Regions from separate parts of the Homo sapiens genome. Here region 1 is linked to region 2. The links come from fine-mapping of genetic effects on gene expression. A gene starts in region 2. The other region holds a variant in brackets. All regions are shown on one strand. Distances are between the middles of the regions. Region 1 has its middle 32 kb from the start of TNPO3. Region 2 holds the start of STRIP2 (striatin interacting protein 2).

Evidence for each region. PIP is the estimated chance that this variant, and not a neighbour inherited with it, causes the effect. A credible set is the group of variants that fine-mapping cannot tell apart.
Region 1: its variant is the best candidate, but not a certain one, in a credible set for the expression of STRIP2 in unexposed skin (GTEx, PIP 0.89).

The regions. Positions count from the first base shown.
Region 1 is chr7:129,084,422-129,088,813 of GRCh38, reverse strand. No RefSeq gene overlaps it. Among named protein-coding and RNA genes, the nearest start is that of TNPO3, 32 kb to the right of the region's middle. The variant G/A (reference allele first, on the strand shown) is at 2,050.
Region 2 is chr7:129,432,683-129,437,074 of GRCh38, reverse strand. STRIP2 (striatin interacting protein 2) reads right to left here and starts at 2,643. Exons shown (of 21, transcript NM_020704.3): 1 at 2,474-2,643. The coding sequence starts at 2,602. RefSeq lists a silencer at 2,284-2,763.

The DNA of each region.
Region 1 (4,392 bases), 350 kb after region 2:
AAAGCCCATATCTGATAAAGGATGTGTATCCAGAATATATAAAGAACTTTGGAAATCAAATAAGAGCAAAGAATTCAACTTTTTTTCAAAAAGTAGGCAACAGATCTAAACAGTTATTTCACCAAAAAAATGGATGGCAAATAAGCACATGAAAAGATGTTCAACATTATTCACATTAAGGAAATATAAATTAAAATCACAATCAGAAACTACTGCATACCTATTAGATGTCTGATTAAAACCATGTGTTAATAAGAGTGCAGAGGAACTAGAACTCTCATACACTGTTGGTGGGAATGTAAAATGATAAAACCACTTTGGAAAACAGCTGATCAGTTTCTTAAAAAGTTAAACATACTTACCATATGATCTAGCCTTTCCACCTCTGTGTATTCACCCAAAAAAAGCACATATTCATACAAAGACTTGCACACAAATGTTCATAGTAGCTTTATTGTTTTCTTCCTCAACTTTATTGAGGCATAATTGACAAATAAAAATCATAGCAGCTCTTTTTTTAAGAGATAGGGTCTTGCTATGTTGCCCAGGCTGGACTCGAACTCCAGGGCTCTAGTGATCCTCCTGTCTCAGCCTCTCAGGTAACTGGGATTACAGGCAGGTGCCAGCACACCTGGCTTGAAGCTTTATTTTTTAATTTAATTTAATTTAATTTAATTTAATTTAATTTAATTTTTTGAGACGGAGTCTCACTCTGTCGCCTAGGCTGGAGTGCAGTGGCATTATTTTGGCTCACTGCAAGCTCCACCTCCTGGGTTCACGCCATTCTCCTGCCTCAGCCTCCCAAGTAGCTGGGACTACAGGTGCCGGCCACCATGCCCGGCTAATTTTTTGTATTTTTTAGTAGAGATGGGGTTTCACCGTGTTAGCCAGGATGGTCTTGATCTCCTGACCTTGTGATCTGCCTGCCCCGGCCTCCCAAAGTGCTGGGATTATAGGCGTGAGCCACCGCACCTGGCCTGAATTTTATTTTTTATTTTTATTATTATTTTTTATTTTTATTTTTATTTTTTGAGACGGAGTCTCGCTCTGTCGCCCAGGCTGGAGTGCAGTGGCGGGATCTCGGCTCACTGCAAGCTCCGCCTCCCGGGTTCACGCCATTCTCCTGCCTCAGCCTCCCAAGTAGCTGGGACTACAGGCGCCCGCCACTACGCCCGGCTAATTTTTTGTATTTTTAGTAGAGACGGGGTTTCACCGTTTTAGCCGGGATGGTCTCGATCTCCTGACCTTGTGATCCGCCCGCCTCGGCCTCCCAAAGTGCTGGGATTACAGGCGTGAGCCACCGCGCCCGGCCGAATTTTATTTTTTTTAGAGATAGTGTCTCGCTCTGTTGCTCAGGTTGGAGTACAGTGGCATGATCGTAGCTCACTGCAGCCTCAAAATCCTGGGCTTAAGTGATCTTCCCACCTCAGCCTCCTGTGTAGCTGGGATTACAGGTGCAAGCCACCATGCTGGGCTAATTTTTAAATTTTTTGTAGAGATGGGGTCTTGCTATATTGCCCAGGCTGGTCTCGAATTTCTGGCCTCAAGCCATCTTCCCATCTTGGCCTCCCAAAGTGCTGGGATTACAGGTGTGAGTACTTCACTGGTCTGCAGCTTTATTTTTAGTAGCCAAAAATAGGAGCCAATCCAATGACTCAATAAATGAATGGCTAGACAAACTGAAGTATATTCATATAATGGAATGACCTCAGTAAGTGAACATTTTTTCAGTAACAGCTTTATTGAGATATAATTCACATAGGTAAAAATTAGCCATTTTAAATATGTAATTTTGTAGTTTTTAGTATATGTACGGGTTGTGCAAACACCATCACAATCAATTTGAGAATATTTGTATTACCCCACAAAGAAATTCTGTACCCTTTAGCAGTCACCTTCATTGCCCCCAGCCACCCTCACTCTGACCTGGGCAACCACTAATCTACTTTCTGTCTCTATTTGCCAATTCTGGACATTTCACATAAAAATGGAATCAGGCTGGGCATGGTGGCTCACACCTATAATCCCAGCACTTTGGGAGGCCAAAGT[G/A]GGCGGATCACTTGAGGCCAGGAGTTCAAGCCCAGCCTGGCCAACATGGCGAAACCCCATCTCCACTAAAAATACAAAAATTAGCTGGGTGTGGTGGCGCATGCCTGTGATCCCAACTCCTTGGGAGGCTGAGGCAGAAAAATTGCTTGAACCCGGGAGGTGGAGGTTGCAGTGAGCTGAGATTGTGCCACTGCACTCCAACCTGGGTGACAGTGACACCCTGTCTGAAAAAATAAAAAATAAAAATAAAAATAAATAAAAATGGAATCATACAATATGTGGGGTTGGTATGTGTGTGTTTGGCTTCTTTCACTTAGCTGAATGTTTTCAAGGTTAATCTGTGTTGTGGCGCGTATCAGTGCTTCATTCCCTTTTATGGCTGAATAATATTTCACTGTATGGATAGACCACATTTTGTTTATCCATTCCTCAGTTGGTGGACATTGGAGTTCTTTTCACATGTTGACTATTATAAATAATGCTGCCATTGGCCAGCTGCCGTGCCTCACATCTGTAATCCCAGCACTCTGGGAGGCCAAGGCAGGCAGATCATTTGAGGTCAGAAGTTTGAGACCAGCCTGGCCAACATGGTAAAACCCTGTCTCTACTAAACAAAATACAAAAATTAGCTGGGTGTGGTGGTGGGCACCTGTAATCCTAGCTACTCTGGAGGCTGAGGCAGGAGAATCACTTGAACCCAGGAGGCAGAGGTTGCAGTGAGCCGAGATCGCGCCACTGCATTCCAGCCTGGGTGACAGAGCGAGACTCCGTCTCAAAAAATAATAATAATAGGCTGGGCGCAGTGGCTTACGCCTGTAATCCCAGCACTTTGGGAGGCCGAGGTGGGCGGATCACGAGGTCAGGAGATGGAGACCATCCTGGCCAACATGGTGAAACCCCATCTATACTAAAAATACAAAAAATTAGCCAGGCGTGGTGGCGCATGCCTATAATCCCAGCTACTTGGGAGGCTAAGGCAGGGGAATCACTTGAACCCAGGAGGCGGAGGCTGCAGTGAGCCAAGATCACGCCACTGAACTCCAGCCTGGCGACAGAGCAAGACTCCACCTCAAAAAAATGTATAATAATAAATAAGGAATAATGCTGCTATGAACATTCATATACTGGCTTTTGTGTAGACACATTTTCTCATTTCTCTTGGGTATATACACTTAGGAGTGAAATTTTGGGGTCAAAAGATACCTCTATGTTTAAATGTTTGAGAAACTGCCAGACTGTTTTCCAAAGTGGCTGCATCATTATACAAGTCCACTCACTAGCAGGGTATGAGAGTTCCAATTTCTCCCTACCCTCACTAACAGTTGCTTTTGTCTGTTTTTTAAATTTTTGTCATCCGAATGGGTGCGCAGTGATATCTCATTGTGGTTTGTTTTTAGTAACAGCTTTATTGAGAGATAATTCAAATAGCGTACGACTCACCCACTTAAAGTACATGCAGTAATGTGGATAGATCTTAAAATAATTAGACCAAGTGAAATAAACCAGACAAGAGTAAGGACTTTTGAATAAAAGCTATGTTAACTGGAAATAAAAGAATAAATATTGTACGATTGTATTCCTATAAAATTCTAGAAAATATAAACCAATCCATAATTACAGAAAGCAGATAAGGGACAATGGGGGGTTGAGGAGAGAGTTTGGGGGAAGTTTCCAGGAAGAAGGGATCACAGGAGGACACAAGGAAACTTTTGGGGGCTGATATTTATTTTTATTATCTTTTTTTTTTTTTTGACAGCCTCTCACTCTATCGCCCAGGCTGGAGTGCGGTGGCATGATCTCAGCTCACCGCAACCTCCACCTGCCGGGTTCAAGTGATTCCTGTGAACCACCGTGCCTGGCCTATTTTCATTATCTTGACTGTGGTCATGGTTTCACGGGTGTATATGTATGTCAAATCTTATCCAATTACACTATAAACATGTAGTTTACTGTATGTCAATTATATCTCAGTAAAGCTATTTTGAAAGAATACAAAGGACTCTACAATATTCTGTCACCTCCCCTTTGTCATGTCACTATACTTTTACCCTGAAAGCTCCCTCCAAACCATATCCCTTAAAATTTATTTATTTATTTATTTATTTATTTATTTTGAGACGGAGTTTCACTCTCGTTGCCCAGGCTGGAGTGCAATGGCGTGATCTCGGCTCACCGCAACCTCTGCTGCCCAGGTTCAAGCAATTCTCCTGCCTCAGCCTCCCGAGTAGCTGGGATTACAGGCACCTGCCACCGCACCCAGCTAATTTTTTTTGTAGTTTTTAGTACAGACGGGCTTTCACCATCTTGGCCAGGCTGGTCTTGAACTCCTGACCTCATGATCCA
Region 2 (4,392 bases):
ACATTCTTAAATTTAATATATTGAACTAAATTTTTAGAAAAACTCACTTCGATGACCTGAATTTTCCTCATTTTACCACAGACCAGTTAAAACTTTGTCAAGGAGTTTGAGATCAATAAACCAGATCTGGCTAAAAGAGGTCTGAGGTGAATCCTTTTATTAGGTTAAGACTCTTCTTATTAAGCAAACAATTATTCTTTAGCTTCCTTTTTAGGTTGGGATGTTCACACACTAAGCCAGTGGGAGAAGGTAGGTCAACAGTGCTTCCATAAACAGTGATACACGATGAGGCTCTCTTGACTTGTGCCACAGTAATTCTCTTCTAGTGATTTTCTAAAAGCCCTAGAGAGGAAAAAAATCCCATCTCCTCTAAGGACTGCCTTCCACAGGAAAGCAAAAAGAGGGAGAGAAGAAAAGCAGATCTGGCACCTGGGTACTGTGGTAATAGGGGATGTACTGGCAGGTAAAAGGAGTCCTGCTGCAGCAGAAGGTAGAGGAAAGCTAATCTTTCCAGCCAGGCTTTTGGCAGGCAATGAGCCCAGATAGAGATGATCGCAGCAGTTGTTCATTTCCAGGCATGAAGAGTGCAGCTGCAGACAATCAGCAGGTAAACCGCGGTGCAGGTGGAAAGCTTTCGAGTCTCTGGACACTGCAAAGTACTGGCAAAAGCAAAGGACTGTACTCTCAGAGCCTTTGCCTGAAGAAGACTTGACAGGTGGGGAACAGATTGCAACTTTAGAAGGGAGACCCAGGCAGAGACTTTTATTCCCCCCATAGAACATATCATTCTGAAATTATTTTATTTATTTACTCACAATTTGTCTCCCCATGGGCGAAGACCCTATCTTGTTCACTGATATATCCCTGGCACCTAAAACAGTGGCTGGCAGAAAGTCCTCGATAAATAATTGTTGAATTAATGAATGGCTCATCTCCCCAAAAAAACATTTGAACGAGAACAATGTCTCTGTGGGGGAAGGAGGTACAGGGTGCCCTAAAAGACCAGACTCATCTTGAAGTAGGGAGGGAGATGATGTGGCGGGTATCATCTAGCAAGACAGGAGGGCTGAGCTCTCTGCCTCTGCAAGGTGGTGACTTTGGGCCAGTCTTTTCATCTCCATTTCTACCTTGAAAAAAAATGAATGGATTCCTCCTACTCTACCTACATCAAAATGTAAAGCATACATGAAATCACTTTGGAAACTGAAATGCTATTCAAATGGTAAGGCAAGGTCTGGGATGCCAAAAACCTGGTTTCTAGTACCAGCTCTGCCACTTGATGATGATGATGATGATGATGATAGCAATATACTAAGAGTTACTATGTACTGACTAATTACATGCATTGTGCCTGCACTGTGCCAAACATTTTATAGTCAATTATCTCATTTTGACTTTATCACAACCTTCTGAGGTAGGCAGTGTTAATCTCATCTTACAGATGAAGAAACTGGAGCTCAGAGAGGTTCCGTAATGTGCCGAAAATCACACAGGTAGTAAATGATAGGGCTAGGAGTCAAAACCTGGTCTGACTACTCCAAAGTCTGGTGTTCTTGACCACCAACTATGCCAGATGTCTGATCTTGGGCAAGTCACTCCTCTTTTTTTTAGGTCTGTAAAATGAAAGGGTTATACCAGATGATATCTGCAGACCCTGCCACATCTGATATTTTGTCGTCTATTCTGATCCCCGCTCAGATCCAACTGATGGGAACTGCCTCAATGAGGGGATAGGGAAGTGATAATAATTCAACGCTTTCATCTTCATAGATAGGGTTTCTTTTTTCAGGAGAGGAGGAAGAGATCGAAATATTCACACTCCTATCTGTATCCTGCGACTGCTCCCTCCAGATAGCCACTCCAGGACTGCCCCTGCCTGAATCCCGTCTCGCTCAGCCCTCACAGGCAGGGGCCTGATGTCCGCGGAAGGCGCTCCCGAAACGGCCTAAGACTTACGGGGGGAAGGGGACGGGCAGGGAACGGGCAGAAGTCCCTCGGCTGGCCCAGGGGCCCGCCGCAGGCAGCCTGGGAGGGGGACTGCGGTTGCCCCACTCGCCAATCCTGCTTTCCTGCGGCTGAGCTCCAGCCTCCCACCCCTCAAGCCAGTCACTTAACCTCTCCGCTCCTGTTCCCCCGTCTATAAACTGGGATCGGAATTTCTGCTTCAGGGGGCTGCAGCGATTAAGTGAGATAAATATTTGGAAAGTATCTGGTCCGCTCAATACCGCGCTCATCTTCGCGCAGCGGGGGAAAGCCAGAGGGCTAGAAAGCCCCCAACCCGCGGCAGGAGACGGGCGGACACTGGTCCGGGCCAAAGAGCCCAGAGTTCAGCCGCTAGGACCCCGCAGGCGCCCACTGCGCGGGGCTGATCGAGCGCGCCGAGGGCTCCGGGGCCGAGGCCGAATCACCTCAGCCGCCGCTTCCCGCCGGCGGGCGTCTCCGGGCCCCAGCCGAAGCTTTCCGGGCTCCTCACCTCTGACTCCCGCCGCTGGCTTCGGAACGCTTCGCGGCCCTTGGGCGCCGCCTGCTTCCCTTTGCCGCCGCCGTTGCCATTGCCATTTGCGGGCGGGCCCCCGGTCCCAGGCGCGGCGGGGTCCTCCATGCTGCTGGTCAGCGGCTCCCCTCAGGGTTCAGCTCGCTTTGCCGGAGGCGACCCTACCGCCGCGCGCCGGGAGCCAGGCCCCGCCCCCTCCACCTCTATTGGTTACGGCAGCTCGCCGCAACCCCGCCCCGCGAGGCGATTGGCTGCTCGACCGGCCGGAGCGGGACTCGAGGAGGTGGGGGCTCAATGAAGAGATTTTTGAGGGGATCTTTTTAGTCCTGCGGCATTGCTGGCGGACGGAGACTCCTAGGTTAGCTACAGGCTCCACACCTCGCGAAAGCTGGGCCTTGAGATCAGGCGGGTTATCTCTGTGCTCCTCACTCGGTGTCTCTCAGCTCTCACCCCCGTCCCTGTAGCGACCTTTTCCGGAGCTCTAGTCTCCGCCTACTGCTCCACAGCAGTCTCCGTTTCCCTGTTACCACCGACCCGGCCCCCCATATCCCGGCTCCTGCACACGTCCCATATCCCGCTTAGTCTCAGGGGAGGGATGGCACCGCCAGGTGGCCAGGGACATCGCCCGAAACGAGGGACTCGCTGTCTCTGGAAGCTGAGAATTCTCAGCGTTTTTCTGAAGAGAACGCATCTCGCCCGGAGCTAGGGCTTGGCTGGGAGACTGGAGGTCTAAGGGTGGGATGGGGGAGTTTTTCCATCACTGAAATTGGTGGTGCCCTCGAGGGCTGCTCCTGTCATCTGCCCTTCTCTGCTGTAGGGGGCCTCTTCCTCATGGTGTGTAAATGTTGAGGGTAGAGCAAGCCCCCACCCTCACCTGCTCGCCAGTCCTTTCTTTCCTTCCTCTCTCTTAGATGCTTCCTAAGGGCTCATTGTTACTGGGGGCAAAAGAGGCTGTTTGATCTGCCCTCTCCTGAATTTAAAAAGTAGCTTGTAGTAAATATTTAGACAGTCTGGCTTGGTAATAGAAGCCCCAAAGACGTAGGCTCAGGGGAACAGGTGGGACCAAATCGCTGTCCCCAGCCTGGTTGCTTTAGGAAGGGTCTGGGGGATTGTTGAACTGAGCTTGGTGCCAGGCACTGCAGTAAGCGCTTTCCAAATATCACATCATACCTCTCCCCGACAGGGTGTTTTTACGAATCCAATGTTACTGATGAAGAAACCGGCACTTGCAGATTCCTCCCTGCGGTTTCCAAGGTATCATATTCTATCTTGTCTCAGGGTCTTGCCTATGCTGTTCTCTGGAGGAGACTGTCTTCTGTTCTCCTGGTTGATTCCTTTTCTCTCATAAAGATTCTAGTTAGTTGTCACCTCCTCCTCCTCCACAAAGCTTTCCTTTTAGCCCTCAACTCATTCAGGTTGTGTTGGTGTCAAACCAGTTCTGCCTAGATCCAAAATCCTAACATTTTCCACGATATACCCAAAGCAAAGGGCCTAGAGGAATTACTCCACCTTCCCATACCTTAGGGACAACCCTGTCCCTTTCTTAACATCTCTCTCTCTCTCTCACTTTTCCCTTTGCCAGTTCATAGGCGACAGAACAAGGCAAGTTTGAGAGCACTCTTTGGAGCTTTTTGGGTTTTCTCACCCTGGTCCAATATCTCCTTACTGTACCTTCACATCTTCCTTTTCCTCTTCCAGTCCCACTCCTCTCCCCACCCACATATAGGCTCCTAGCGAGTAAGACCAAATTTAGCTCATTTTTGTATGCCCCTAATTTATGTACGTTTAACGCAGCGTTTCACAGTCTCTGTACTATTGACAATTGGGGCTGAATATTTATTGTAGGGGGCTGTCCTGTGCATCGTAGGATGCTTAGCAGAATACCTGGCCTCTCTTCA